Linked DNA regions of Homo sapiens. The protein of the gene in region 1 interacts with the protein of each later gene in a biochemical or structural test. Each region holds a gene or a part of one and is shown in the gene's direction. Other genes may lie near its edges. The genes, in order: PRKCA, ADD1, LIMK2, SDC4, MAST2, DLG5 and PATJ.

What was found.
Region 2: of the proteins of PRKCA (region 1) and ADD1, one has a biochemical effect on the other in vitro, tested with the Homo sapiens proteins (one study listed by BioGRID).
Region 3: the proteins of PRKCA (region 1) and LIMK2 interact in a test that uses a peptide from one of them, tested with the Homo sapiens proteins (one large-scale study listed by IntAct).
Region 4: the proteins of PRKCA (region 1) and SDC4 form a complex in vitro, tested with the Homo sapiens proteins (one study listed by IntAct).
Region 5: the proteins of PRKCA (region 1) and MAST2 interact in a test that uses a peptide from one of them, tested with the Homo sapiens proteins (one large-scale study listed by IntAct).
Region 6: the proteins of PRKCA (region 1) and DLG5 interact in a test that uses a peptide from one of them, tested with the Homo sapiens proteins (one large-scale study listed by IntAct).
Region 7: the proteins of PRKCA (region 1) and PATJ interact in a test that uses a peptide from one of them, tested with the Homo sapiens proteins (one large-scale study listed by IntAct).

The regions. Positions count from the first base shown.
Region 1 is NC_000017.11:66,802,115-66,806,490, forward strand, and holds part of PRKCA (protein kinase C alpha type), read left to right. Parts: intron 1-1,758; coding exon 1,759-1,923; 3' UTR 1,924-4,376. UniProt on the Homo sapiens protein: Calcium-activated, phospholipid- and diacylglycerol (DAG)-dependent serine/threonine-protein kinase that is involved in positive and negative regulation of cell proliferation, apoptosis, differentiation, migration and adhesion, tumorigenesis, cardiac hypertrophy, angiogenesis, platelet function and inflammation, by directly phosphorylating targets such as RAF1, BCL2, CSPG4, TNNT2/CTNT, or activating signaling cascade involving MAPK1/3 (ERK1/2) and RAP1GAP.
Region 2 is NC_000004.12:2,923,341-2,927,575, forward strand, and holds part of ADD1 (alpha-adducin), read left to right. Parts: intron 1-2,673; coding exon 2,674-2,772; intron 2,773-3,301; coding exon of another isoform or gene 3,302-3,335; intron 3,336-4,235. UniProt on the Homo sapiens protein: Membrane-cytoskeleton-associated protein that promotes the assembly of the spectrin-actin network. Binds to calmodulin.
Region 3 is NC_000022.11:31,270,835-31,275,210, forward strand, and holds part of LIMK2 (LIM domain kinase 2), read left to right. Parts: intron 1-301; coding exon 302-367; intron 368-1,695; coding exon 1,696-1,870; intron 1,871-2,617; coding exon 2,618-2,673; intron 2,674-4,316; coding exon 4,317-4,376. UniProt on the Homo sapiens protein: Serine/threonine-protein kinase that plays an essential role in the regulation of actin filament dynamics. Acts downstream of several Rho family GTPase signal transduction pathways.
Region 4 is NC_000020.11:45,327,291-45,331,484, reverse strand, and holds part of SDC4 (syndecan-4 precursor), read left to right. Parts: intron 1-920; coding exon 921-1,119; intron 1,120-4,069; coding exon 4,070-4,194. UniProt on the Homo sapiens protein: Cell surface proteoglycan which regulates exosome biogenesis in concert with SDCBP and PDCD6IP.
Region 5 is NC_000001.11:46,029,964-46,033,844, forward strand, and holds part of MAST2 (microtubule-associated serine/threonine-protein kinase 2), read left to right. Parts: intron 1-165; coding exon 166-275; intron 276-643; coding exon 644-798; intron 799-1,043; coding exon 1,044-1,327; intron 1,328-1,427; coding exon 1,428-1,622; intron 1,623-2,214; coding exon 2,215-2,441; intron 2,442-2,632; coding exon 2,633-2,755; intron 2,756-3,838; coding exon 3,839-3,881. UniProt on the Homo sapiens protein: Appears to link the dystrophin/utrophin network with microtubule filaments via the syntrophins. Phosphorylation of DMD or UTRN may modulate their affinities for associated proteins. Functions in a multi-protein complex in spermatid maturation.
Region 6 is NC_000010.11:77,821,891-77,826,266, reverse strand, and holds part of DLG5 (disks large homolog 5), read left to right. Parts: intron 1-1,790; coding exon 1,791-1,883; intron 1,884-4,165; coding exon 4,166-4,376. UniProt on the Homo sapiens protein: Acts as a regulator of the Hippo signaling pathway.
Region 7 is NC_000001.11:61,748,357-61,752,732, forward strand, and holds part of PATJ (inaD-like protein), read left to right. Parts: intron 1-4,376.

The DNA.
Region 1 (4,376 bases):
GGAGGCTGAGGTGGGAGGAACGGTTGAGCTCAGGTGTTGAGGCTGCAGTGAGTCGTGCTCCCACCACTGCACACCAGCCTGGGTGACAGAGTGAGACCCTGTCTCAAAAAAGAAAAAAAAATTAATAAGCCCAGAAAGGAAAGCTGTTTGTCATAAAGACCTTACTTTGAATTTATGACATGCTTTCCACCTCAACAGGTACTTAGGAGCAGGTTTTATTTGATGAAAAGTAGGTGGGAAAAGGGTAATGAAAGTAGCTTCGTCGCTGGGCGTGGTGGCTCATGCCTGTAATCCCAGCTACTCGGGAGGCTGAGGCAGGAGAATCACTTGAACCCAGGAGGCAGAGGTTACAGTGAGCCGAGGTCACGCCACTGCACTCTAGTCTGGGCGACAGAGCAAGACTCCATCTCAAAAAAAAAAACGAAAGTAGGTTCTCAAGCACACCTCCTAGAAGATAAAGTGTGAAAAAAGAGCTGAGAAAGCACAGCCCGTGAGACTCAACTGCCTTATAAAAACACTAGCAGCACGTGCTGGCCTCTCGCCTCGGCTGGGTTCTGTGCAAAACCCCATACATTTCACCTTCCTGACAGCCTTGGGCAGGAGGTGTGATTGTTCTCCCAGTGTTACAGATGAGCAAACTTGGTGGACCCCACTTCACAGTTAATCCAGAGCTATTCTCTGTTAGAGACCCAAGGATGCCTGGTTAGTTTGAAATGTGTGCTAGCTCAGAGTTAATTCATATTGGCCCTGTGGTGCTAGCAGCAGGTCCAAGGGCAGTAATTGGCAGCATCTTGAAAATCATTCTTAGGATCCTTAGTGAAACTCCCAGCTCTTCCTGCTTCAGAGTCACCCTGGGCTCCCGGGGACTTCAACACGCCACTACCCTTGTGGGTGGCTGACAAGGTGAAGAGAACACTCCTTCCCCACTTTTGGGGTCAGGCTACCAAGCCGTGCTGCCTAAGCGGCTGTGTGTCTCAGCGACCCCAGTGCAACAGTTCTGCCTGGAGTGGACCCTGGAGGAGAGGAACAGCCGAGACAGCAGGCCTCTCCCTGCCTCCCCAGGGCGCCATGCAAACATCCTCCAGCCTGAGACCACCCTGCAAATAAGCTCCAGTCAGTCACCCAGCCTGCCCGCTGGCCAGCTCTGTCTAGGTGTGCTAAATCCTAGCTGGGCCAGGTGCAAATCTCCCAGCCTTGCCGCCACACCTACCTCATATCGCTTGAAGCTTAATTTAGGGGCTGGGGTTGCTGGAGCAGCCCAGTAGGAAGGCAAGGATAACACAGTTTTTACTTCACTACAAATATTGCGGCAAAAAAACAGATGTGGGGCAGTAACTCACCCCGTCGCTTGGTCCAGGGGTAACTGCCTGCAGCCCCAGCCGACATCCTGGCCTTTCAACACGGAGCTGTGACTGACGGCCCTGCGTGCGTGGCTTCCGTGCTCTCAGCTCCGCTTGCTCGGTGAGGTGGACGTGAGGGGACAGGGGCTGTCCCCTTGTTGCTGCCTCATTGCCAGCCGTGCAATTCCCACCCAGGGCTTCTGTTCGGGGTGTTTCAGGGTTTACAGTTGGGTAACTCGTTGTTGTCTGCTGTGCCTGGCTTTTCAATCCAATAGGCCTGCAAGTCCTCCGAGATTCCTCCTCCTAACCAGCCCGGAGTTCCCCAGGGCCGTGCCCCTCCCCAGAGAGGGCCCTCGGAGAGCTGCTCCCGCATTGTCATGTTGACTGACCTTTCCTTCTTTTTGTCTTTTCTCCACAGTGTGGCAAAGGAGCAGAGAACTTTGACAAGTTCTTCACACGAGGACAGCCCGTCTTAACACCACCTGATCAGCTGGTTATTGCTAACATAGACCAGTCTGATTTTGAAGGGTTCTCGTATGTCAACCCCCAGTTTGTGCACCCCATCTTACAGAGTGCAGTATGAAACTCACCAGCGAGAACAAACACCTCCCCAGCCCCCAGCCCTCCCCGCAGTGGGAAGTGAATCCTTAACCCTAAAATTTTAAGGCCACGGCCTTGTGTCTGATTCCATATGGAGGCCTGAAAATTGTAGGGTTATTAGTCCAAATGTGATCAACTGTTCAGGGTCTCTCTCTTACAACCAAGAACATTATCTTAGTGGAAGATGGTACGTCATGCTCAGTGTCCAGTTTAATTCTGTAGAAGTTACGTCTGGCTCTAGGTTAACCCTTCCTAGAAAGCAAGCAGACTGTTGCCCCATTTTGGGTACAATTTGATATACTTTCCATACCCTCCATCTGTGGATTTTTCAGCATTGGAATCCCCCAACCAGAGATGTTAAAGTGAGCCTGTCCCAGGAAACATCTCCACCCAAGACGTCTTTGGAATCCAAGAACAGGAAGCCAAGAGAGTGAGCAGGGAGGGATTGGGGGTGGGGGAGGCCTCAAAATACCGACTGCGTCCATTCTCTGCCTCCATGGAAACAGCCCCTAGAATCTGAAAGGCCGGGATAAACCTAATCACTGTTCCCAAACATTGACAAATCCTAACCCAACCATGGTCCAGCAGTTACCAGTTTAAACAAAAAAACCTCAGATGAGTGTTGGGTGAATCTGTCATCTGGTACCCTCCTTGGTTGATAACTGTCTTGATACTTTTCATTCTTTGTAAGAGGCCAAATCGTCTAAGGACGTTGCTGAACAAGCGTGTGAAATCATTTCAGATCAAGGATAAGCCAGTGTGTACATATGTTCATTTTAATCTCTGGGAGATTATTTTTCCATCCAGGGTGCCATCAGTAATCATGCCACTACTCACCAGTGTTGTTCACCAACACCCACCCCCACACACACCAACATTTTGCTGCCTACCTTGTTATCCTTCTCAAGAAGCTGAAGTGTACGCCCTCTCCCCTTTTGTGCTTATTTATTTAATAGGCTGCAGTGTCGCTTATGAAAGTACGATGTACAGTAACTTAATGGAAGTGCTGACTCTAGCATCAGCCTCTACCGATTGATTTTCCTCCCTTCTCTAGCCCTGGATGTCCACTTAGGGATAAAAAGAATATGGTTTTGGTTCCCATTTCTAGTTCACGTTGAATGACAGGCCTGGAGCTGTAGAATCAGGAAACCCGGATGCCTAACAGCTCAAAGATGTTTTGTTAATAGAAGGATTTTAATACGTTTTGCAAATGCATCATGCAATGAATTTTGCATGTTTATAATAAACCTTAATAACAAGTGAATCTATATTATTGATATAATCGTATCAAGTATAAAGAGAGTATTATAATAATTTTATAAGACACAATTGTGCTCTATTTGTGCAGGTTCTTGTTTCTAATCCTCTTTTCTAATTAAGTTTTAGCTGAATCCCTTGCTTCTGTGCTTTCCCTCCCTGCACATGGGCACTGTATCAGATAGATTACTTTTTAAATGTAGATAAAATTTCAAAAATGAATGGCTAGTTTACGTGATAGATTAGGCTCTTACTACATATGTGTGTGTATATATATGTATTTGATTCTACCTGCAAACAAATTTTTATTGGTGAGGACTATTTTTGAGCTGACACTCCCTCTTAGTTTCTTCATGTCACCTTTCGTCCTGGTTCCTCCGCCACTCTTCCTCTTGGGGACAACAGGAAGTGTCTGATTCCAGTCTGCCTAGTACGTTGGTACACACGTGGCATTGCCGCAGCACCTGGGCTGACCTTTGTGTGTGCGTGTGTGTGTGTTTCCTTCTTCCCTTCAGCCTGTGACTGTTGCTGACTCCAGGGGTGGGAGGGATGGGGAGACTCCCCTCTTGCTGTGTGTACTGGACACGCAGGAAGCATGCTGTCTTGCTGCCTCTGCAACGACCTGTCGTTTGCTCCAGCATGCACAAACTTCGTGAGACCAACACAGCCGTGCCCTGCAGGCACCAGCACGTGCTTTTCAGAGGCTGCGGACTTTCTTCCAGCCATTGTGGCATTGGCCTTTCCAGTCTTGGGAGGAGCGCGCTGCTTTGGTGAGACACCCCCATGCAAGGTCCTCAGAGTAGCCGGGTTCTACCACAAACAGAAACAGAATGAAAGTAGCTGTCAGTCCTTGTAGAGAGCCGCTCTGTTTCCTCCCAGAAGCATCTCCCAGCTAAGCTCGCATTATTTTTCTCCTCTGGCTGTTTGCCTGAAGTTCACAGAACACACAACCATGAAAGGCTTTTTGAGGTGAGAGGCCCAGGTGGTCCTGGCAACCCTGAGTAGAAGGAGAGACGGGGTAGGGAACGGGCCCGGCCAGAAAAGAACCATTTCTTCTGCCATCTTTTATGCACCATAGACATCGAGACTCCAGGGGGTCCTGGCTCCCCTGTCCCTGCAGCCCTGCAGGTCAGTGCATGATCTGGGTTCGTGTCCTGACCAGGTGCTCCTCCTTTGATC
Region 2 (4,235 bases), on another chromosome or scaffold:
GCACTGTTTCTCAAGCCACAGTCCCTCATGGCTTCCCTTGGCTAGATGAGGGAGTTCCCCGACTCCTTGCACTTCCTGGGTGAGGCAACACCCCACCCTGCTTTGGCTCGCCCTCCGTGGGCTGCACCCACTGTCTAACCAGTCCCAGGGAGATGAGCCAGGTACCTCAGTTGGAAATGCAGAAATCATCCACCTTCTGCGTTGATCTCACTGGGAGCTGCAGATCGGAGCTGTTCCTATTCGGCCATGTTGCCTGTCACCCTGACATTTGTCTCTTTACGAACACAGTATTTCTGTCTGTTGAAGCTTCACCGGGGAGAGACCTCCTTTACTCAGTTTGATTCATTAACACTCAGCATTGCTGAGCAGTCATTGTGCCGGGCACATGCCCAGTGCTATTGTGCGTACATCTCATCTCATTCTCAAAGTAACCCTGAGAGATAGGTCATTTTCCCCCGGCTGGAGCAGAGGAATAGGGAGCTCAGACAGGGCGGCTCGCGAGAACGAGGTTGTGCGTGGCCGAGCCCTGATTTGGACAGAAGCGCACTGCCTTCCTCACTGAGTCTTTGGTCACAGCAGTCAGCCCCGGCCTCTGTGCAGGGGGACGCTCTGAACGTCCTTACTGTGCTTGTGTGTAGGGCTTGGGGTTTCTGACAGAAATTCTCTTTCTCCATAAACCTTGAGGGTTTCCTGTGCAGGTGTGGTCACAGGCCGGAGGGTGAAAATGCTGACTGCCCTGGCATGTGCCCAGGTCCCATCAGGAATGGCTGGTGCAGCCTGTACTTCTCTTGGTAGCCCGCTGACAAAGGCGGTCTTGTTTTTGTCAAAGATGGGGCAGTCTTAAAATGAATACAAATAAGCGGCTCAAGTTTGAGACCCTCACGGAGCAGGTGGTTTCAAATGTCAGGCTTTGAAAAGGAAATGTTGAGAACTAATGAGAGAAGCAGGTCTCCAAAGCCTATTCCTTGAGGGCTTTTGGGCATCAGCTGCTTTTCCCCCAAGCTCCCTGCTGCCAGCTCTCTTGTCCACTAGGCTCTGAGCAGCCTTGGTGCTGGCACCAAGAAGAACCAGGGGCACAGGGACCCCTGCCAGGAGGCTCCCGCCAGCATCCTCAGGGCCGTAAGCTCCAACTCAGGTTTTTACTGAAACCTCAGTGTGCTTCTCAGTCCTCCGGGGTCAGCCTTGCTGGAGCCACCTTGTTGTGTGGGACTGACTGTTGCTCTCCTGGGCCGTCGTCATCCTGGGAGCTAGGCACTCCTCCTAAGAGGACCTCTTCACCGGTTTTTGTCTCGTTCTAGACCAGCCACTGCATTACGTAGTTGTGACTGAAATTTGAGTTGCTGAATTGTTTTTCAGTGTCACACCGCTATTTACTATTCAGGCCGCCACACACACCAGGCCCTGCTGCTGGTTGTCTCCCTCCAGTGAAGCTTTGTCTGAGCCATTGCTGTAATTACCTGCCTTAGAGCGAGAACTGGAGGTAGTCAGCTTGAGCTGTGGGTCATGTGGCCTCCTCCTAGTTTCTGTGCACATGTACACAGACATGTGTCTGCCCTTTGGAGTCTCCTGGGATCTGAGTAACCTGGATTGTTTTTAAAAACAAGTCAAACAAGATATGTGGAGTTTCCCCCCGATGTGTGAGGCTCCTTCAGCAGGGCTGTGATGGCAGCTGAGTGGATGGGGACAGGCTCTGGCCGTGCTCTGTGATCACAGAGCTGTCAGCAGGAGAACCCACAGGAGGTCTGATCTGGCCCTTGGCATGGGCTGAGGGGAGAATGTGCCACAGGTAAAATGCAGGCTGGCTGCCAGAGGTCAGCACCTTTTCCCGGTTGAGGCTGTATGCTCACTCAGCTAGGTGGTATGGCGGCCTTTTTATGGACACCTGGCTTCTGGAAGGTAGCTGCCAACGTGGTACTTGGGGAGGCGAGCCAGCTGTTAGGGTGGGAGCAGAGGCCCTGGGAGCTCAGAAGGATGATGATAGCTGCTGGTTCAAAATACGGACCTGCTGATCCTAAGCTATTAATCTTAAACTTCTGAAATAAAGACAGAGATGGAAGGAGTTAGAATAGTGCTGGTCCATATTTTCCCCGAAATGAGAAGTAGACTTGGAATCCTTTTCTATATCCAGGATCCTAGTTCCTGCATTTTTTCCTCTGGTTCTTATTAGCATTTTTCACTTTAAAAAGTAAAAATACGTATTACAGTTGCCAAGTTTAAATTATTGGGATAAAATGCCCTACCACAGAATTAAAACCAAAATAATGCTCATGTGATGTCCCTTAAGGTGGTGAGTGGGTTCAGGACCCTCAGCCACCTGCTCAGCAGGGAGAAGGCAGGGAGGGAGGGGTCCCTACTCGCACAGGACAGCGGGGGACAGGCCAGGGCATACCATTCGAGTCCATCACAGAAGTGGCTCTGGCAGACTCTCTTTGGAATAAGAATAGAAATAAGTTTTGTATCTGAAGTTGGTTAAGTTTCTCTGAAATTCGCATCAGTCAACACCCAGGTCACAGCTTCCTTTATCCTCTCTTGGAGAGGATCAGGGAAAGGGTTGAGAGAGCCCTGCCTTCTCAGAGGGCGGCCGAGCGGGCTGCCCCATCTGCCATGGAGGCAGGTACAGGCTCATGGCGTGGCGTCCACAGCTCCTACCATATCCTTCTTGCTTCTCTGCAGAGAATCTGGACGAGGCTAGAGAACAGAAAGAAAAGAGTCCTCCAGACCAGCCTGCGGTCCCCCACCCGCCTCCCAGCACTCCCATCAAGCTGGAGGAAGGTGAGCTCTGGGTGGCAGCGGCCGCCACTGTGGGAGGGTGCACGGCTCGTGCGCGCTGTGGCGGAATGTGGCGGGAGTCGTGTTAACAGCAACACGGAAGTGTGTGCTTGCATCAGCGCCAGGACGTGACACCTTTCTCCTCCTATATTGCTTCTGTCCTGGGTAACTCCAGGCAAAACAGATTTGTATGTGAGCTGTGACCAGGTAGGAAGGCCGGCCTCGGGGGTCGGAACCCACCATGGTTGCTGGTGTCCACGTTGCCCATTGCTCGCACACTCCTCGTGCCGTGTTGTCATGCAGATGCCACCTTCGGAGGTGCCCTCCGCTGTGTGAGCCACACGCCGGCTGCCTCTCAGCCACCGTGTGTCTGTGGTGTGTGATCCCGGGTGTCTGTCCCTCGGTCTCGTACATCCATGTCTCTCGTGAAGCCCGTGGCCCTGCCTTTCTTCTTCTGTAACCTGATGGCTGTGACTGAATGCATAGATTCTCTCCTTGTGCTTTTTTCTCCCTGTGGCTGCGTCACAAGCAGGAGACGGATGCGCTAGAGAGTACCTGTTACCCTAGTAAGTACCGTGCTGCCTCCGCTCTCCACCGGTGCCCTGCGCTTTGCCTCATTCTCCTGCTTCTTTGTTGTTTATTAAGTTTTGTTTTCTGTTTATTTAAAATAAAAACAGAAGCCCCCCTTTTTTGTACCCAGTCCCTTGGAGGCCTTCCTGGAAGTGGTTCAGTCACCTGAGTGCTGTGCTGCCTTCAGCGGCAGCGGGTACCTCCACGCACCTAGGTGCCATGGAGCACTCTGGGCCTCAGGAGTTCCTACCTCCAGCCTTTGAGGGTCTCTTTGGATTGCTTGGTGGGAGGGTTTTGCCACACTGGATCAGATGTAAGTGCAGCCTCGGTTCAGACAGGGTGGGGTTCTGCCACCTGCCGTGTGGGGTCAGATTGCCTTGGACCTTTGCTGAAGCTGGTCCAAAGGAGGTGGGCAGAGGAGCGGATATTGGACCCTCGTAAAGCAGTGTGATGTTCACTCAGATGATGGCAGCTCTCCAGAGCGAGTGCCCTGGGGCAGCCTCCGTCCTAGCATCAGCCACACCATGCCCAGCAGAGCGGGCCCCATCTCCTCAGGGGGAGCGGCGCCTGTGTGCCCATAGCCCTTTCCCGGTTCTCATGAAGCGTGGCCTGGAATTAGCCTGGGGCAGCTGGCAGGGTGGGGGTGCTTCCAGCTTCCCAAAGGTAAAGCACTGAGAGTTTGGGGCCTGGGCCTCCTGTGCTGCTCCTAACCACTCAGCTGACTCCCCTGGCCCTGATGTGTGGCTTGATTTTTAAACACTAAACAGCTTGTGGTGCCTAACCTGTCAGTTGCTGGTAACTTTGTAGGCCGTTTACGAATGGACAGAGCGGGTGCCCGGGTAAGTGCAAGGAAGGCGCCCCCAGGCTGTGTCCTCAGGGCCGCTGTGCTCCTTCAC
Region 3 (4,376 bases), on another chromosome or scaffold:
GGTTTTCTGAAGTTGGGGACATTAGGAGAGAGCTGTGAGGGCTTTGGCCAGCCACTGTGCTAGTGATTGGTGAACCAAAGGATGGGCAGGAGATGGCAGCAGGGAAGCAGAGGAAGTCCAGGCTTCCTGTTGGTATTGGGACAAGGGAGAGGCCATAGGAGGCCCTGGCCCTGTTGTCCAGGTTGGGTTCTGAAGCTGGGTGGGCATGGCCTGGTAGGAGAGCATCTATGGCGCCCAATTCCAGATTCAGGGTCTAGTTGATTTGCTGGCCCTGTAGCCTCAGCTCATGCTTCTGTTCCAGGCCTATTTGCACTCTATGTGCATCATCCACCGGGATCTGAACTCGCACAACTGCCTCATCAAGTTGGTATGTCCCACTGCTCTGGGCCTGGCCTCCAGGGTCCTATCCTTCCTGGCTTCCTTGTCACAAAGGAGGCTGACTTGTCCCCTCTGGCTAGAGGGCAGAGGTGTTGCCTAGGAGCTCCTATCTTTCCCTTCCTGCTTCTTCCAATGCCCTTCTCTGTCCTCTGGGAGCTCCGAGACACACACAGACATAATTTCACCTTCTCTCATTAGCAACCTTTGAAATAATTTGATTAGAAGGGACTTCAGAAGTTTGTTGACTATATGTAGAAAACCCTGTCATTTTACCTGCTTTTGCCCCATAGTAGTCTTGTAAAACAGTTCATTGCTGACCCCATTTTACAGTGGTGGCACCTGAAGCCTCAGCCTGAGGCCACCGAGCTAGTAAATTTACAGGGACCAGTTTGAGACCAGCATTCCTCCCACTGCCCCTCAGCTGTGGTGGTTACAATGTTGTTTGTCTTACTGACTTGCTATCTGGCTTCCTGGGTGTCTACCGGCTGGCCCTGGCTCTGCCCTCTAGACCCACACCACGCAATCTTCATTCCTTTCCCACATGACTGCCCTGTAGCTATTCAAAGAGCTTGTCTCCCCCAAGTCTCCCCATCTACTGCCTCCACCTTGCCTTTTTCTGTCTTATCCTGGTTCTAGCCACTGCCTGAAATCATTTTAGGAATAAGACAGGACAGGGAAAAACAAAAGCAACCCCCTGTCCCACCTCTGAGTTCCACTCTCCAAGTCCCTGAGCCTCACCTCCAGGGCTCCAGTGGCTCTGCCATGAACCCACTGTGGGCTGGGAGTCTGCTGTGCACAGATACCAGACCCTCAGAAACACAAATGCCAAGTGTGTCTGTTTTTTTGTTTTGTTTTGTTTTGTTTTTTAGATGGAGTCTCATTCTGTTTCCCAGGCTGGAGTGCAGTGGTGCAATCTTGGCTTACTGCAGCCTCTACCTCCCGGGTTCTAGTGATTCTTCTGCTTCAGCCTCCCAAGTAGCTAGGACTACAGGCGTGTGCCACCACGCCCAGCTAATTTTTTTTTTTTTTTTTTTGTATTTTTAGTAGAGACGGGGTTTTGCCATGTTGGCCAGGCTGGTCTTGAACTCCTGACCTCAGGTGATTCACCCGCCTTGGCCTCCCAAAGTTCTGGGATTACAGGTGGAAGCCACCGTGCCTGGCCTGAGTGTGTCTATTTGATAGAGCTTTCTGCTCTGATTCTCCCTTGCTATACACCTTTTCTCCCCTTCTCAGTGGCTTCTCTTGCCTATGCTTCCTCCCCAGGGCCAGGTTTGAGAACATCCCCATGAAGTCCTGACCTGTCTTTTATCCTACCAGGACAAGACTGTGGTGGTGGCAGACTTTGGGCTGTCACGGCTCATAGTGGAAGAGAGGAAAAGGGCCCCCATGGAGAAGGCCACCACCAAGAAACGCACCTTGCGCAAGAACGACCGCAAGAAGCGCTACACGGTGGTGGGAAACCCCTACTGGATGGCCCCTGAGATGCTGAACGGTGAGTCCTGAAGCCCTGGAGGGGACACCCGCAGAGGGAGGACAGATGCTGCCCTTGCATCAGAGCCCTGGGAATTCCAGGGGAGGCCTGTGAAGCGTAGGACCGGATACCCAGAGCTGAGGATATTTTTCCCTTGCCAGGTGGGGCCTCACGATTTAGCTCCTGAGCTCAGGGGGCTGGGAACTGATCAGTGTCCCATCATGGGGGATAAGGTGAGTTCTGACTGTGGCATTTGTGCCTCAGGGATCGCTAAGAGCTCAGGCTATTGTCCCAGCTTTAGCCTTCTCTCTCCATGGTGAGAACTGAAGTGTGGTGCCCTCTGGTGGATAATGCTCAAACCAACCAGAGATGCTGGTTGGGATTCTTGAAATCAGGGTTGTGAGGCCTCAGAAATGGTCTGAATACAATCCATTTTGGAGTCTGAGGCCCAGAGAAGTTCAGTGAATTGCCTAGGAGCATACAGCTGCCTAATGGCAGAGGCTAGATGAACCCTAGTCTGGTTCTTTTCCACTTTAACGTGCAGTTTCATCCTAGGCAGTGTTATGTTATAAGGGCTCTCCAAGGCAGTTCACCTACAGCTGAGGAAGGACTATTTTCAGGTGGTGTCTGCGCAGGACAGCCTGTGGGGTGTCCCTACAGAACCTGTTCTAGCCCTAGTTCTTAGCTGTGGCTTAGATTGACCCTAGACCCAGTGCAGAGCAGGTAAGGGATGTAAACTTAACAGTGTGCTCTCCTGTGTTCCCCAAGGAAAGAGCTATGATGAGACGGTGGATATCTTCTCCTTTGGGATCGTTCTCTGTGAGGTGAGCTCTGGCACCAAGGCCATGCCCGAGGCAGCAGGCCTAGCAGCTCTGCCTTCCCTCGGAACTGGGGCATCTCCTCCTAGGGATGACTAGCTTGACTAAAATCAACATGGGTGTAGGGTTTTATGGTTTATAACGCATCTGCACATCTTTGCCACGTTCGTGTTTCATTGGTCTTAAGAGAAGGACTGGCAGGGTTTTTTTGTTTTAGATGGAGCCTCACTTCGTTGCCCAGGCTGGAGTGCAGTGGCACAATCTGGGCTCACTGCAACCTCTGCCTTCTGGGTTCAAGTGATTCTCCTGCCTCAGCCTCCCAAGTAGCTGGGACTACCGGCACACACCACCATGCCCGGCTAATTTTTGTATTTTTAGTAGAGACAGGGTTTCACCATGTTGGCCAGGCTGGTCTTGAACTCCGGACCTCAGGTGATCCGCCTGCCTCAGCCTCTAAAAGTGCTGGAATTAATAGGCGTGAGCTACCTCGCCCGGCCAGGTTTTTTTTTTTTTTTTTTTAGTTGAGGAAACTGAGGCTTGGAAGAGGGCAGTGGCTTGCACATGGTCGATAAGGGGCAGATGAGACTCAGAATTCCAGAAGGAAGGGCAAGAGACTGTTCATGTGGCTGTCTAGCTAGCTCTTGGGCCAAATGTAGCCCTTCTCAGTTCCCTTCAAGTAGAAGTAGCCACTCTAGGAAGTGTCAGCCCTGTGCCAGGTACCACGTGGACAGAGTGAGGAATCTTGGAAAGATTCCTACCTTTAGGAGTTTAGTCAGGTGACAGCATATCTCAGCGACTCAAACACACACACATTCAAAGCCTTCTGTAATTCCTACAAAGTTGTGAGGGGTAGAGGAGAGGAGAGACAAGGGATGGTTAGGATAATGAAGGAATGTTTTGTTTTTGTTTTTGTTTTTGAGATGGAGTTTCACTCTGTCACCCAGGCTGGAGTGCAGAGGTGCAATCTTGGCTCACTGCAGCCTCCGCCTCCCAGGTTCAAGCAATCCTCCTGCCTCAGCCTCCCAAGTAGCTGGGACTACAGGTGTGCGCCACCACGCCTGGCTAATTTTTGTATTTTCAGTAGAGACAGGGTTTCGCCATATTGGCCAGGCTGGTCTCAAATGCCTGACCTCAGGTGATCCACCCGCTTCAGCCTCCCAAAGTGCTGAGATTACAGGCATGAGCTACCGTGCCTGGCCATGAAGGAAGATTTGTTTTAAAAAATTGTTTTCTTTAATATTAATTGAACACCTCTGTTCAGAGCACTGGGCTGGTGCCAGAGGGTTTCAGACATGAATCAGATCCAGCACCTCATAGAGCCTTAACTCTGGCACACACACACAGCCACAAGGAGACACAGACAAGGCAGGGTAGGATGAGTGGAAGCTAGGAGCAGATGCTGATTTGGAACACTTGGCTTCTGCAGTGAAGCCCCTTCTTAGTCCTCTTCAGTAACCCAGCTCTCAGTGGATACAGGTCTGGATTAGTAAGATTTGGAGAGATGATTGGGGATTGGGGAGAGCTCTCTAACCTATTTTACCACCTCCTCTTCTGCCATTCTTCCTGTCCACATCCCAGCATCCCTTTCCCTTGCCAAGTATCTGTGGCCTCTGTAGTCCTTTGTAAACAGCTGTCTTCTTACCCTACAGATCATTGGGCAGGTGTATGCAGATCCTGACTGCCTTCCCCGAACACTGGACTTTGGCCTC
Region 4 (4,194 bases), on another chromosome or scaffold:
AGCCTTATTTTACCCAGCCCCTATTCAAGATGTAGGCACTCTGGTTCAAACACCTGACATTTTCCCCCTCCCTTTTGTAAGAAAACCCTTAATCCTAAGGGTTGCAGAGGGACAAAGATCCATCTTCTATAACTTCTTCATGCTGAATAGGGTGATGATATTCCTGCTTAACTATTAGGGCCTCTTGTATCCATGGTAGAGAGGGGTTCAGTCAGAAAGGGCCAGTATGGTGAGGGCCATTCATAACTCTTAGTTCTGACAAAAGGTGATATCCAAAGTCCTCCAATCAGTGCTGCAGTCCATTTCCTTTGATTCGGGAGTCTCCTCCGTCTCATCCCTTCTGTGGTTCTCCAGAAAGATGTTACCAGAAAGGGGTCCCGATCCAGACCCCAAGGGAGAGGGTTCTTGGATCTTGCACAAGGTAGAATTCAGGGTGAGTCCATAGAGTAAAGTGAAAGCAAGTTTATTAAGACAGTAAAGGAATAAAAGAATGGCTACTTCATAGGCAGAGGAGCTGCAGCAAGCATCTTTTACACGTAGTCTCTGAAGAGCTCCTTACAATAGAGTTTCCAGGGCAAAACTGCCACCTTAAAGGGCAAGCGATGTCTAAGGTTTTGCCAAATTGCTTCCAGAGTGGTTGCTCTAGAATAACCAGTGGCCAGCAGTGCAGGAGAGCACCTGCTTCCCTGTTCCCTTGGGTGCATTCATTTTTCATTTGGGACAGATATACTAAAAAAGTTGGGGATAAGGATTTTGGCAGCATAATTGTGGAGACAGTGTTGCCAATTCCTGCTCCAGGACCATATGGTTCAGCTGAATATGGCAGAACCAGATTCTCTGCCTGGCTGAATGTCCCTGTCCCCTGCCCTGAGTCTCTTCCAAAATACGCTGAGTGTCTCTTCTCCTTTCCGCCCATCCAGGTGCCTCTAGATAACCATATCCCTGAGAGGGCAGGGTCTGGGAGCCAAGTCCCCACCGAACCCAAGAAACTAGAGGAGAATGAGGTTATCCCCAAGAGAATCTCACCCGTTGAAGAGAGTGAGGATGTGTCCAACAAGGTGTCAATGTCCAGCACTGTGCAGGGCAGCAACATCTTTGAGAGAACGGAGGTCCTGGCAGGTAAGTCCCCATGCTGCTTATAAGATGCCTTGAAGGTGGAATGGGGCTCAGCGGGGGAGAGCACCTGCAGGCAGGGATGCCTCCAGCCATGAGGCTCCTTGGTGCCCCTTCCTTTTGCCTATTCAGGTTGCCCTAGAACATTGAAAGACTACACCTTCCTTATGGGGTGGCTCTGACTGTGCAGCCTGGTGGAGGGAGAGGAAAAAGCACCTATCAAAGTCTTCTGGAAAATAGGCATTGAGTCATTCTTCTGCCTTAAGTCTTTCTCATTTATTTTGCAAAGGACTTTCACTGTATAAGTTTGGCATCTGGGAGTTAATCATTAAAAGTTAATTTCCCTTGTAAGTCTGGAGGCTCCTTCGAATTGGGTTAGCTTCCCCTCCCCCTACTCTATCACTTGGCAGCCTTGTGACCTTGGCTGAGAAGCTTTCGAACTTGATGAGCCTCAGTTTCCTTATCTGTAAAATGGGTACAGTGATACCTTCTGGGGTTGATATAATGAGTCCATGAAAAATAAAATATGAAATAACTTTGCACACTATAAAGGGCTATTCCGATTTGGCCTCAGTTGAGAGTTCTTTACTGGAATGTGCGGTGAGGAATGCTTTGTCCCAGGTGTTGACAAAAGGGATGGAGGGAACTCCCCAAGGTCATGGCCGAGGGCCAGCCTGGATGAACCGGCCTGGCAAGTGGGCACCCTGGGCCCATGCTGGGTAACTCCTGTCTCCTGGGAATCAACAGAGCCAGCAGCTCCAAGGAGGCTTGAGCTATAGGGACAGAGCCTGGCTTCATCCAGGACAGATGGAAGGTCTCACCTGCCTCTTGTAAAGAGGGTTCCTGGGAGCACAGCCCCTGATGACTGGGCCCACCTCAGCCCTGACCCTGGCTTCCTGGTATCTGAGCCAAAGTTCTTTTTACTTTTCTTTCAGAAGTAAAAAGATTTGCATAAGACTTTGGATTTGCATAAGGTTTTGCTCTAATTAACTAAAGGTGCTATTGCTTCTAAAGAAAAATTTGAAAACCACTGATTAATCTAAGCACCTGCTTCTTATACATGGGGAGACTGAGGCCCAGGCTTTAGGCCACATAGTAAGAAAAGAACTGAAGCCAGGTTATCTCTTTAATCTTCCATTTGAGAATTATACAAGCCTAAGAGCCTCATGTGAAAAGTTATATTGTTAGCTGGTGTGGTGGAATCCCCCATTCCAGAAGCTTTAATCAGCACCCAGGAGCCTTATTAAATGCTTGCTGTATGCTGTATGATTCCTGTGCCCCTGATTGAGTCCGTACAACACAAAACTCAGTCTAAAGAACTTATCCGAAGTCACAAAGCTGGAAGTGGCAGACCTGGCATTTGGACTGAGGACCACAGTCAGCTTCTGAGCCTGTGCTTGAAACTTGACCCTGTGGGGCATCCCAGCGCAGACCCAGGGCCTCGTGGAGGAACTGGGGTCATCAGAGGGAAAGGTGATAGAGACAAGAATGGGGTTGATGCCTGATATTCCATGTGCTTGCTCTGGCACCTCCTGGGGGTACTTTTTTGTTGCTTTTTCATAGGATTTTACCCAAGAAAGAACCTTGCTTGACTCCTCTGTGCCACTCTGTCCCCATTGTGTACATAGATTTGTAGTGTGTGCAGGGATGGAAAATTAATCTTCTTAGCCCGAGTAAGACCGAATTAGGGAACTCAATCTGCCACAGAAGGGATTCTATGAAGCATCCCTGCCCCTAGCAAACAGGAATGAGTCATTCAGGCCACCTGGCAGAGTGGACAGGCCAGACCCACTCACTGTTAGAAGCCCATCTCTGCCCAACACTAGGCAGGTTCTCCTCTCGGAGCCTGAAAGTATCATTTATTAAGCACCTCCTGTTGTGCACACCTGATTCAGGGGGTTCGGGACACAGATATAAACCTTAAACCCTTACAGTTAATGAATCTTGAGAATATGCTATGCACTAGGCATTGTTCTAAGCACTTTGAGTGGATTAATTTATTTAATCCTTAGGACAAATGTATGAGAAAGGTATGGCTCTTCCCATTTTGCGGTAGGGAGATGAAGGAAACTTGCCCCAAATCACACAGCCAGGAAGTAGGAGAGGTAGGAGTGGAAACCAGGCCTTAGCTACTGAGTTCTGTATGTAATTGTAACATAAGAGTTTGGAATTAGTATGTTCTGCATGTGTGCACTTTGAATGTACATACCTGTCTATGAAGTGTAGGCTATATAGGTAAATATGCACACAGGGAGAGCTAGAGAGTGCCCTGTGCTAAGGACTGCAGGATAAATATGTCTACAGGGATTTCCATAGCCTACGGTTTTCTCCTGTTCCTGGTTCAGTTAGTGCTAGACTGTTGCAGGGGAGTCCGCGTGGTGTTTGGAAAGAGCCTAGGCTTTAGATTCAGGCAGATGTGGGTTAAAATAGTGGCCTTGGCCGAGTGCGGTGGCTCACGCCTGTAATCCCAGCACTTTGGGAGGCCGAGATGGGCAAGGTCAGGAGTTCAAGACCAGCCTGGCCAACATAGTGAAACCCTATCTCTACTAAAAATACAAAAATTAGCCGGGCATGGTGGCACGTGCCTATAATCCCAGCTACTCAGGAGGCTGAGGCAGGAGAATTGCTTGAACCTGGGAGGTGGAGGTTGCAGTAAGCCGAGATCACGCCACTGCACTCAGCTCGGGCAACAGAGTGAGACTTCGTCTCAAAAAGAAAAAGGAGTGGCCTTACCACTAGCCCTGTGGTCTTCAGTGACTTAAAATGCCAACGACCCACTTCTTATAACTGGGGTCATGAGGTCAACTTAAATAAGGCATCAGCTTGCCTGGCACAGGCAGTGGTGATGGTGAGGATGTCTGGTTGTAAGAGAACTGACAGTGGGGGAAAGAGGGGTTCATCCTTAGGTCCTGATGAGGAGCTCTCACCCCCGCCTCTTCTCTCTCCTCCTCTCCAGCTCTGATTGTGGGTGGCATCGTGGGCATCCTCTTTGCCGTCTTCCTGATCCTACTGCTCATGTACCGTATGAAGAAGAAGGATGAAGGCAGCTATGACCTGGGCAAGAAACCCATCTACAAGAAA
Region 5 (3,881 bases), on another chromosome or scaffold:
CGATGGGTGGGGTGGAGGATGGGTCCTACCTGTTTGCCTAGAAACACCTGTGCACACTGAAATTGCATTGGGAGCAACTTCTCAGGGCTCTGCTGAAATCTAATGGGGTCACAAGGAGGCCACCAGCAGGGCTCTGAAGGAAAGTGTCCTTTATGTCTGGCCCAGCCCGCTCAGAGCGATACCACCACATGGACTCGGAGGATGAGGAAGAAGTGAGTGAGGATGGCTGCCTTGAGATCCGCCAGTTCTCTTCCTGCTCTCCAAGGTTCAACAAGGTGTGACTGAGGAGGCCCAGAATGGGCAGAACAGGCTGGAGGATCAGAAGAAGAGGGCCTGTCAAAGGGCACACCTGGGGCAGGCTCAGGGAGTTGGGGTTGGGGCCACCTCTAGAAAAAGAGGAGCTAAGGGTTGGGGCTACATATAGCTATATATAGGTGCTTCTAGAACCACTGCTGTCCCTGACATGAGATGCCAGGTCAGATCAGTGGAATAACTCCTTCCCCAAATATTCAGCAGGGGTGTGTGAAGGAGGGATGGAACCGACTGGTTCAAATTCCTAGGTTTCCGATGCCAAGGATGCTTTATGCCACTTGGGAGGTACGGCTGCCAGAGCCCATCCCCAGCGCATCCCCTGTGCCCACAGGTGTACAGCAGCATGGAGCGGCTCTCACTGCTCGAGGAGCGCCGGACACCACCCCCGACCAAGCGCAGCCTGAGTGAGGAGAAGGAGGACCATTCAGATGGCCTGGCAGGGCTCAAAGGCCGAGACCGGAGCTGGGTGATTGGCTCCCCTGAGATGTGAGCACCCAGAGTTCACCCAGGGTGGGCGACACAGCTATCCCTGCATTGTCACAGATCATGGGAGAGATTCCGATGCCAGGGAGGAGTGCAGGTGGCAGGGAGGGGGCATTCACAAGGGTGGCTCCTGGAGGAATGTCTGCGGAGGAAAGTTCTGTTACTATAACCCTTGTGTGCCCCTAAGGAGACCTGGCAGGAGGAGGGGGACCACCTGGGTCACTCACCCCAGGCCTTGTGTCTCATAGATTACGGAAGCGGCTGTCGGTGTCTGAGTCATCCCACACAGAGAGTGACTCAAGCCCTCCAATGACAGTGCGACGCCGCTGCTCAGGCCTCCTGGATGCGCCTCGGTTCCCGGAGGGCCCTGAGGAGGCCAGCAGCACCCTCAGGAGGCAACCACAGGAGGGTATATGGGTCCTGACACCCCCATCTGGAGAGGGGGTATCTGGGCCTGTCACTGAACACTCAGGGGAGCAGCGGCCAAAGCTGGATGAGGAAGCTGTTGGCCGGAGCAGTGGTTCCAGTCCAGGTATGGCCCAGTGGGCGGCCAAACGACCTAAGCTGGAGGATACTGCAGGGCAGGGAGGCTCAGCGGCATCGCGGGTCTCACTGCTTACTTGGGCCTACAGCTATGGAGACCCGAGGCCGTGGGACCTCACAGCTGGCTGAGGGAGCCACAGCCAAGGCCATCAGTGACCTGGCTGTGCGTAGGGCCCGCCACCGGCTGCTCTCTGGGGACTCAACAGAGAAGCGCACTGCTCGCCCTGTCAACAAAGTGATCAAGTCCGCCTCAGCCACAGCCCTCTCACTCCTCATTCCTTCGGGTGAGGCCCCTGGGGAGCTGGGATAAAACTCACAGGAAGGGCCTTGTAATCTCTAGGCCTTGGGAGGGTTCTGCACGTGGCAGGTGTGTGTGTGTGTGTTAAGCACAGATCTGACTGTGGTCTCTGAAGGTGTGTATTGGTGTCTGGGGTTGTGTATACATGTGCCAGAAAGCAGGACAGCACCATGTCACAAGTGCAGGCTTTGGGGTAGAGAGCTCACACTCAAATCCTGGCTCCATCACTAACAGGCTCTTGACCTTGAGCAAGTTGCTTAACTTCTCTAAGCCTCAAGTTTCTTATCCAAAAATGTGGATATAATAGAGGCCAGCTGATAGGTTGTGACATTTAAATATATATGACAAGCTTATATAGTCCCTGATACACACATAAATGCTAGCTGCCATTTCTCATCACCACCACCGTCTCTTGGGGTCTGGACACGGGAGAGGGCTTCACAGGTCAGGGGCTGTGGGGAAAATGGACCTAGGCTCAGGCTCTGTCTGTGACTAGAGTTGTGCTGACATCAACAGACTGGACCAGGGGCCAGGCCAAAGCCCTCTGACCCACTAAGTCCTGGCTTCTCCTTCTCCAGAACACCACACCTGCTCCCCGTTGGCCAGCCCCATGTCCCCACATTCTCAGTCGTCCAACCCATCATCCCGGGACTCTTCTCCAAGCAGGGACTTCTTGCCAGCCCTTGGCAGCATGAGGCCTCCCATCATCATCCACCGAGCTGGCAAGAAGTATGGCTTCACCCTGCGGGCCATTCGCGTCTACATGGGTGACTCCGATGTCTACACCGTGCACCATATGGTGTGGGTATGTCTGACCATCCAGACCTGCTGTCTCCCTGCTTCATCATCCTTCCAGCTTCCCCTTTGTGGAGCCCATCTGTCCCTGCTCGGGGGTCAAAGGGTGGTGGTGAAGGGGCTCACAGCTTAATGTCCAGAACCAGGCCCCATACTTCGTGTTCAGGCTCCAGTCTGAGTACTGTTCTCTTCCTGGCACAGCACGTGGAGGATGGAGGTCCGGCCAGTGAGGCAGGGCTTCGTCAAGGTGACCTCATCACCCATGTCAATGGGGAACCTGTGCATGGCCTGGTGCACACGGAGGTGGTAGAGCTGATCCTGAAGGTTAGTGCTGGGCGTGCTGCCTGCATGGTCCCTGAATGACCTCAGCCTGTGAGTCTGTGATGGCAGTTAGGGGAGTGGGTGAGTTGGGTGCACACACATCTACACCGAGTATGGATGTAGGTACACACAGGCCGGGCGCGGTGGCTCATGCCTGTAAATCCCAACACTTTAGGAGGCTGAGGCAGGTGGATCACTTGAGACCAGAAGTTTGAGACCAGCCTAGCCAACATGGTGAAACCCTGCCTCTACTAAAAATACAAAAAAAAAAAAAAAAAAATGCCTGGGTGTGGTGGCTCACGCCTGTAATCCCAGCACTTTGGGAGGCCGAGGCGGGTGGATCACCTGTGGTCAGGAGTTTGAGACCAGCCTGCCCAGCATGGCAAAACTCTACTAAAAATAACAAAAATTAGCCAAGCGTGGTGGTAGGCACTTGTAATCCCGGCTACTCGGGAGGCTGAGGAAGGAGAATTGCTTGAACCTGGAAGGCAGTTTGCAGTGAGCTGAGGTCATACCACTGCACTCCAGCTTGGGAGACACAGCAAGACTCTGTTTCCAAAAAAAAAAAAAAAAATTAGCCGAGTGTGGTAGCACATGCCTGTAATCCCAGCTACTTGGGAGGCTGAGGCAGGAGAAGTGCTTGAACCCAGGAGGCAGAGGTTGCAGTGAGCTGAGATCGCACCACTGCACTCCAGCCTGGGTGACAGAGTGAGACTCTGTCTTAAAAAAAAAAAAAAAAGATGTAGGTACACACAGAACTTGAATGTGGCACAACAGAGAGTTTTCTCCACAAGGCAGTACCCTCCCTGACTAAGGCCCAGGGATCCTTCTGAGCTGTGGGTAGGGCTGCAGAATGGGACGGATTAGCCTGTTTTCTACCTTCTTACCCCAAACCACTCTGGGGCTCCAATGGGAGCCATTTCCTCATCTGTAAAAACAATAATATAGGCCTGTGGTTCAGATGTGTTGGTGCAGGGACAAAAAGCTGGAGCTGTGGTATAGCCATGCCAGAAGGGAAGGATTGGGGGAGGGGAGGGGCAAGAATATGGCTCCAGCTTAGCCTAGGCCTCATGCTCTGCTCCCCAGAGTGGAAACAAGGTGGCCATTTCAACAACTCCCCTGGAGAACA
Region 6 (4,376 bases), on another chromosome or scaffold:
GTCCCTCCCGAGGGATAGTCTGGGCATCTCTGCCCTTACTTACATCTGTGTCGTGCTGCATGGCCACTGACATGCTACTTCATAGGGACCCAGGAGTGTGCCCTGGGGTACATTCCTGGGGGTGGGGTTTGCTGGGTCAGAGGACATGAATGTTTAACATCCAGCGAGATCTTCCCCCTTTGCTCCAAAAAGGTCATGGCTTTTGCAGTCCTCCCTGCAGTGTGTGGGGGAACTCATTGCCTCACATCTTTGCCAATGTTTTTCAGATTTTTTGGGGAGCCAGAGTGTAAAAGCTATATGGCCACTATGAAAATTTTTTAAATGTGGATATGTTATAAGGAAAAAACCACAAATTAATTTACTACTTCCAGATAATCACTCTGCAGATATTTTAAAAAGAAAACTTGACTGGCCGGGCATGGTGGCTCACGCCTGTAATCCTAGCACTTTGGGAGGCCGAGGCGGGTGGATTGCCTTAGTTCAGGGGTTCGAGACCAGCCTGGGCAACACAATGAAACCCCATCTCTACTAAAATACAAAAATATTAGCCGGGCATGGAGGCATACATCTGTAATCCCAGCTACTCGGGAGACTGAGATAGGAGAATTGCTTGAACCTGGGAGGCGGAGGTTGCAGCGAGCCGAGATCATGCCTCTGCACTTCAGCCTGAGGGACAGAGCGAGACTCCATCTCAAAAAAAAAAAAGAAAACTTGACTTTGAAATGATTATAGATTCATAGGAAGCTGCAGAGATAGTACAGGGGGGTCCTATGTACTCTTCTCCCTGCTTCCCCTCATGGTTGCACCTTGCATGAGTATAATATCAAAGCTAGCATATTGACATTGGTACTGTGTGTGTGTGTGTGTGTGTGTGTGTGTGTGTGTGTGTGTGGTTGTGTGTGGTTAAACACATGTTGTTCTGTGTAACCACCACCGTAATGAAGATACGTAGCTGTTCTATCAGCACTGAGGTCTCCCTCCCACTGCCCATTTGTAGTAACACCCCCTGCTCCCTCCCATCCCTGCCCCCTGGCAGCTGATTTTTTCTCCATCTCTGTGATGTTGTCCTTTTGAGAATGTTACAGACATGGAATCATATAGTATGTGACCTTTGGAGCTGGGCTGTTTTGATTCCGCACCATGCCTGCAAGATCCACCCAAGAGGCTGCGTGTGCTGGCTGCTTGTTACTTATCGTTGCTGAGCAGTGTTCTGCAATGTGGGTGTATCACAGTTTGGTCATTCACCGGTTGCACATATACTTCTTAAGAAGGTCTGCACATAGCTGTGAGCAGAGATTCCGGGAGCAGGGTTGAGAGGTTCTTTGTGAACACTCACAGGGCCCCACTTCGCGTGGTACTTTCTCTACAAGGCCTTTCCTATCCATGGTCTTGTTTTTAGTCCCCCGCTCTCCCGAGCCACATGCATGTATTTATCTTCCATTTCCTCTGTGGAGGCAAGGAGCTGGGAAGTTCTGAGCCAAGGTCCCACGCCACATGGCCGGGCACAGCAGTGCCAAGATGTTCCCTCCGGGTCCTCGGTGTTCTGATCCCAGAAGGACATGCTCCTCCCCTAGCCTGCTGTGAAGGCTTATGTGTTCCTCTACCTCAGAATCCCCTTAGTTGGACTCCTTGGGCCTCACCAGAAAGACCTCTATCCTTTGCCAACTCCTGACTTTGGCACCTTGCATTTGGTGACTGTCTAGCACAGGAGGTTAGGTAGGCAGAGATCCTGACTGGTAGGCCTGAGGCCGCTCTGCCTGTGGCCTGACATGCTCTCTGTCCTGCTCTAGATCAATGGCATTGCACTGGACAACAAGTCTCTGAATGAATGTGAATCTCTGCTGCGCAGCTGCCAGGACTCCCTGACCCTGTCCCTCCTGAAGGTAAGGGCTGGACCTGGCTCTGCTCTCACGGTCAGGAGTATGGGCAGAGCCCCGGCTCCACATAGCCATGCTACTCCTTGGGGTCACAGGATCCTTGAGAACAGGGTGGGCATTTACTGAGTGCAGAGGGGGCAGGAACCCTGACTGGACGCTGGTCTGAAATCAAAAAACAGCAGTCAAGGCCATGTTGGGCACAGTTGGGTACATTTGAATCTGGACCCGATAATTAGATGATCTTAGGGAATTGTTGCCAGTTTTCCTAGGTATGATGATGGCATTGGGGTTGTTATACAGGAGAATGGCTTTATTTGGGGGAGGTACAAGCTAAAGTTGTTAGAAGTGATGTGTCATGGCCGGGCATGGTTGCTCATGCCTGTAACCCCAACACTTTGGGAGGCCAAGGCAGTCGAATCACTTGAGCCCAGCAACACAGCGAGACCTTGCCTCTACAGAAAATACAAAAAGCCTGGGAGGTCGAGGTGGCAGTGAGTTGTGATTGTGCCACTGCACTCCAGCCTGGGTGACAAAGTGAGACCCTATCTCAAAAATGAAAGGAAGAAGCTGGGTGCAATGGCTCATGCCTGTAATCCCAGCACTTTGGGAGGCGGGTGGATCACCTGAGGTCGGGAGTTCGAGACCAGCCTTGACCAACATGGAGAAACCCCGTCTCTACTAAAAATACAAAAATAGCCGGATGTGATGGTGCATTCCTGTAATCCCAGCTACTCAGGAGACTGAGGCAGGAGAATCGCTTGAACCCAGGAGGCGGAGGTTGCAGTGAGCTGAGATCACGCCTTTGCACTCCAGCCTGGGCAATAAGAGCGAACCTCTGTCTCAAAAAAAAAAAAAAAAAGGAAGGGAAGTGACATGTCATGATATTTGTAACTTGCTTTCCAGTGTTCTGTAGTATCATTATAGACAAAAAGACAATTTAGTGAAATATTTTTGAATCTAGATGGTACATTTATGGACATTTATTATACTTTTCTACATATTTGAAAAGTTTAATAATAGGAAGTTAGAAAAAATAGGCCGAATTTAGAAAACATCTCTTAATGAAATGGCTGGGCCTATTTTTTCTAACTTTCTATTAAGAGATGTTTTCTAAATTAACTATTTTCAAATTATTTGACTTTTTTGGAAGCAGTTTTATGTTTACAGAAAAGTTGGGCTGATACAGAATTCTTAGCACTCTCTCAACCACCCCATCACCACCATCCCCACTCCTGTCCCCAAGTTTCCCCAATTTTGGCATTTTGCGTTAGTGTAGTTAGTACATGCGTTATAATTAGTGAGCCAATGTGGATGCATTAGTATTAACTATAATGCATAGTTTACATTAAGGTTCAGTCTTGGTGTATTTTCTGTGAGTTTTGATGCAGGTGATGACATGTACTACCATTGTAATATCATACAGAGTAGTTTCACTGCTCTAAAAATTCCCTATGCTCCCCATATTTATGCAAGCCCCTGGCAACAACTGATCCTTTTACTGCCTCCATGCTTTTGTGTTTTCCAGAATGCCATAGAGTTGGAATCACAGAGTGTATAGAATGGCTTCTTCATTTGCTAATATACACTTAAGGTTCCTGCACGTTGTTTCAGTTCTTTTTAGTGCTAATTTATATTCCGTTGTCTGGGTGTACCACAAGAGATATATTTTTAACAATGAATTTTTACTTTTATGTTTAATATTTAAAAAAAATATTCAAGACATTATGCAGGTAATTTCCTTCTTTTTGAGACAGAGTCTCATTGTGTCGCCCAGACTGGAGTGCAGTGGCGTGATCTTAGTTCACTGCAACCTCCACCTCCGGGTTCAAGCGATTCTCCTGCCTCAGCCTCCCAAGTAGCTGGGACTACAGGTGCATGCCACCGTGCCTGGCTTATTTTTGTAATTTTTGTATAGATGGGGTTTCACCATATCGGTCAGGCTGGTCTCGAACTCCTGACCTCGTGACCCGCCTGCCTCAGCCTACCAAAGCGCTGGGATTACAGGCATGAGCCACTGTGCCCGGCCCAGATAATTTCAGAAAGTGTTCAAAGTTAAGAAAACTTTGACTCTTCTTTGAGTTCAGAGTGACCAGAGCCATGAGAAAACTTATCCATTAGGGAGAAGCATATGTGTTCATGTGTGTGTGCATCTCTGTCTATCTGTCTCTTTTTTAAGGGGCAGGTGGCCCATTCCTGACCATTGCTTTACCTCTGGGGATGGTTTTCAGTGGCAGCTCCAAGTCCTGCCATCTCACTCTCTCTCTCACTCCTCTGCAATCCCTGCCTAGGTATTCCCTCAGAGCTCCTCGTGGAGTGGCCAGAACATTTTTGAAAATATCAAAGACTCTGATAAGATGCTGAGTTTTCGAGCCCATGGCCCGGAGGTCCAGGCTCATAACAAACGGAACTTGATACAGCACAATAACTCCACGCAGACAGACATCTTCTACACGGACAGGCTGGAAGACAGGAAGGAGCCAGGCCCCCCAGGAGGCAGCA
Region 7 (4,376 bases), on another chromosome or scaffold:
CCATTCTCCTGCCTCAGCCTCCTGAGTTGCTAGGACTGCAGGCATGCACCACCACGTCTGGCTAATTTTTTGTATTTTTAGTACAGACGGGGTTTCACCATGTTGGCCAGGCTGGTCTCGAACTCCTGACCTCAAGTGATACGCCCGCCTCAGCCTCCCAAAGTGCTGTGATTACAGGCGTGAGCCACTGCGCCTGGCCATGTAAATGGATTAATACTCCAAATTATAGGTCCTCTCTATAACCTCCTCCCTTATACTCACTACAGTGGTGAAACATTTTATTTTTCAGTCTTCTCAGAACTAACTTACTGATTACACACTAAAATCTCTGCTACAATAATTTAATTATTAGCTTTTGCAGTGCCATGATCATGGTTCACTAGCCCTGACCCCCTGGGCACAAGGGTTCCTCCCACCTCAGCCTGGACTACAGGCACGCACCGGCACGCACCACCACGCTCAGCTAGTTTTTGTTTTTGTAGAGATGGGGTTTTGCCATGTTTTAAATCATTTTGATTGAAAAGAGATGCTAATAGTAGTTATCATTTGTTGAATGTGTACCATGTGCTAGGCCAAATGCTCTAAATTATCCTCTTTAGTGTTTGCAGTATACATATGAAGTAATTTTTTTTTTCTTTTTTTTCTCCTGAGATGGAGTTGCCCAGGCTGCAGTGCTGTGGCACCATCTTGGCTCACTGCAACCTCCATCTCCTGGGTTCAAGCAATTCTTCTGCCTCAGCCTCCCAAGTAGCTGGGATTCAGGTGCCCGCCACCACGCCCAGCTATTTTTTTTTTTTTTTTAAACAGAGTTTTGCTCTTGTTGCATTTTTATTAGAGACAGGGGTTTCACCATGTTGGCCAGGCTGGTCTCGAACTCCTGACCTCGTGATCCACCCGCCTCAGCCTCTGAAAGTGCTGGGATTGCAGGCGTGAGCCACCACACCCAGCCATGAAGTAATTTTTATTAACTCTTTTTTACAAACAAGGGGACTGAGGTGTAGGGAGATTTAAACAATTGGCCTACAGAGCGGGTCCTAGGGATAAACCCTGAGTCTCTGATTTCAAAGCTCATAGGCTATAGAATTTCCCATATTTCAATAATTGGCTATTGAATCAACTGGCAAAAAGTTGATTATTGAAGTACACATTTAGTTCTAATCCTGTTTTTGTATTAGTGACCAATAGGAAATGATCTAAATTCTCGTCAACAGGAGATTGGGTGAAGAAAGTATGTATTCCTACCATCGAATGTTACTTAGTTGTTACAGTGGCTGAGCAGGAACTGCCTATATCATCATGAATAACACCCCTCACCGCAGCCTGGTGTTTTTTTTTTTGGAGACAGGGTCTCACTCTGTTGCCCAGGCTATGGAGTGCAGTGGTGTGATCATGGCTCACTGCAGCCTAGACATCCTGGGCTCAACTGATCCTCCCACCTCAGTCTCCTGAGTAGCTGGGAGTACAGGTGTGTGCCACCACAGCTGGCTAATTTTTAAATTTTTTTGTCAAGATGGGGTCTTGCCATGTTGCCCAGGCTGGTCTCAAACTGGGGCTCAAGTGATCTGCCTGCCTTGGCCTCCCAAAGTGCTGGGATAACAGATGAATAAATCTTAAAAATGTAAAGTTGAGCTTAAAATAGCAAGTTGCTGAAGAATAAGTATACAGTATGATGTAATTTATATAAAGTTTAAAAACCTGCTGAACAGTAATATTGTAAACCAGGACAATGTGTGTTTTAAGAATTTCACATTTGAATTTTGTCTGTATTGATTGCTTGCACTTGGGAAGCTGCCTCATAGTTCAAAGAAGTTAGTGGAACCACTGTGAGATGAACATTCTCTAATGTAGGTTGTACTCTTAGAACCAAAGCAGACCAAGGTCCTGCCCTTGCTTTGACCCTTTGCACACCTTGCTTGGTTTGGTAGATGGCTTTTAGGCCTGGGTCTGTGGGCTTTCAGGGACAGGTCAGTTTCATTTCACTTTAGCTTCCATTAATAATAATTAGTGGATGTTGCTTTGACAATAGGGGCTGGTGGGCAGGGCTTCTGCCTGGTATCCCTTGGGGTTATTTTCTGGAGCTTTTTTTTTTTTTTTTTGAGATGGAGTTTCTCTATTTTTGCCCAGGCTGGAGTGCAATGGTGTGGTCTCGGCTCACCACAACCTCTGCCTCCCGGGTTCGGGTGATTCTCCTGGTACTATTACTACTGAGTAGCTGGGATTACAGGTGCCCGCGACCATGCCTGGCTAATATTTTTGTATTTTGAGTAGAGACGGGGGTTTCTCCATGTTTGTCAGGCTGGTCTTGAACTCCCAACCTCAGGTGTTCTGCCTGCCTCGGCCTCCCAAAGTGCTGGGATACAAGCATGAGCCACCACGCCCGACCCATTTTTCGGCGCTTGTAATGAAGTTCCAGGACGTAGTGTGGTAGAAGAGGGAGATAAGTGAATGTTGAGGGTCAGGTTGTAAATCTTCCCACCATTTAAAATTTGAAGTATTCTCATTTTTAAAGTAGTTATCTACTGAAAGGTCACTAACAGTTGAACCCCTTCCCCATGGAATTAACTCTCTCCAATGGCATCTATGTTTCCTTGCTTTGTTTTTACCTTTTTTCATAGTATCCCTTTCCCTTTTCTATTTTATTTTACTTTTTTTTTTTTTTTTGAGATGGAGTCTCACACTCTGTTGCCCAGGCTGGAGTGCAGTGGTGCGATCTCCACTCACTGCAATGTCTGCCTCATGGATTCAAGTGATTCTCCTGCCTCAGCCTCCCGAATAGCTGGGATTACAGGTGTGCACAATGACACCTGGCTAATTTTTGTATTTTTAGTGGAGACGGGGTTTCACAATGTTGGCCAGGCTGGTCTCAAACTCCTGGCCTCAAGTGATCCGTCTCCTTGGCCTCCCAAAGTGCTGGGAGTACAGGCGTGAGCCACCACGCCTGATTCCTGATATGACCATAATTTCTGGGGAGAAGCTGGGAGTGTACAGTCGGCAGTGCGGGTAAAATTGAATAGCATTTTTGAGGTGGAAACTAATCATTAGTGAATAGTATGAATGCCCAGGTCTTTTTAGTGGGGACTGGCTACATGATCAGAGACCTCTAAGTGTGAAAATTGCCCAGATTTTTTTTGTCATTGTTGCTCGTTGGAGAAAACTGCTACCAACCAGAATACAGAAGCCTACCATAGACTGGGTGCATTGTCTCTAGCCTGTAATCCCAGCACTTTGGGAGGCCAAGGCAGGCAGATCATCTGAGGACAGGAGTGTAAGACCAGCCTGACCAACATGGTAAAACCCTGCCTTTACTAAAAATACAAAAATTAGCCAGGTATGGTGGTGCATACCTGTAGTCTCAGCTACTAGGGAGGCTGAGGCAGGAGGATTGCTTGAACCCTGGAGGTGGAGGTTGCAGTGAGCCAAGACCGCACCACTGCACTCCAGCATGGGCAACAGAGTGAGACCCTGTCTCAAAAAAATAATAATAATAATAAAATAAAAAAGGCCGGGCGTGGTGGCTCATGCCTGTAATCCCAGCACTTTGGGAGGCCGAGGCGGGTGGATCACCTGAAGTTGGGAGTTTCAGACCAGTCTGATTAACATGGAAAAATCTTATCTCTACTAAAAATACAAAATTAGCCCAGCGTGGTGGGTCATACCTGTAATCCCAGCTACTCAGGAAGTTGAGGCAGGAGAATCGCCTGAACCCGGGAGGCAGAGGTTGTGGTGAGCCAAGATCTCTCCATTGTACTCCAGCCTGCGCAACAGGAGCAAAACATCATCTCAAAAAAAAAAAAAAAAGAAGCCTACCATATAGCAGTTTAACTTTGTTCCTACAAAAGTGGCCAAGTTATAGGAAGAGTATTGATATGCATTGGTTAACTTTGAATAGTTTAATGAGAAAATTAGCATGAGTTAACTGAATTATTCTGAAAAACTGACTCTTTTCATTTCTTTCTTTTTTTTTTTTTTTTTTTTAAGACGGAGTCTTGCTCTGTCACCCAGGCTGGAGTGCAATGGCACAATCTTGGCTCACTGCAACCTCTGCCTCCCAGGTTCAAGCGATTCTTCTGCCTCAGACTCCTGAGTAGCTGGGATTACAGGCATCTGTCACCACACCTGGCTAATTCTTGTATTTTCAGTAGAGGCGGGTTTTCACCACGTTGGCCAGGCTGGTCTCAAACTCCTGCCCTTGTGGTCCAAGGCCTCCCTTGTGCCCGCCTCGGCCTCCCGAAGTGCTGGGATTACAGGGGTGAGCCACCGCGCCTGGCCTTCATTTCTTTTTTAAAAAATTTATTTATGTTCATTGAAGCACTATTCACAAGTTTTAATTTCAGATTCTGAATTTAAAGTGGTGTCTTTCAACTTCAATTTCAACA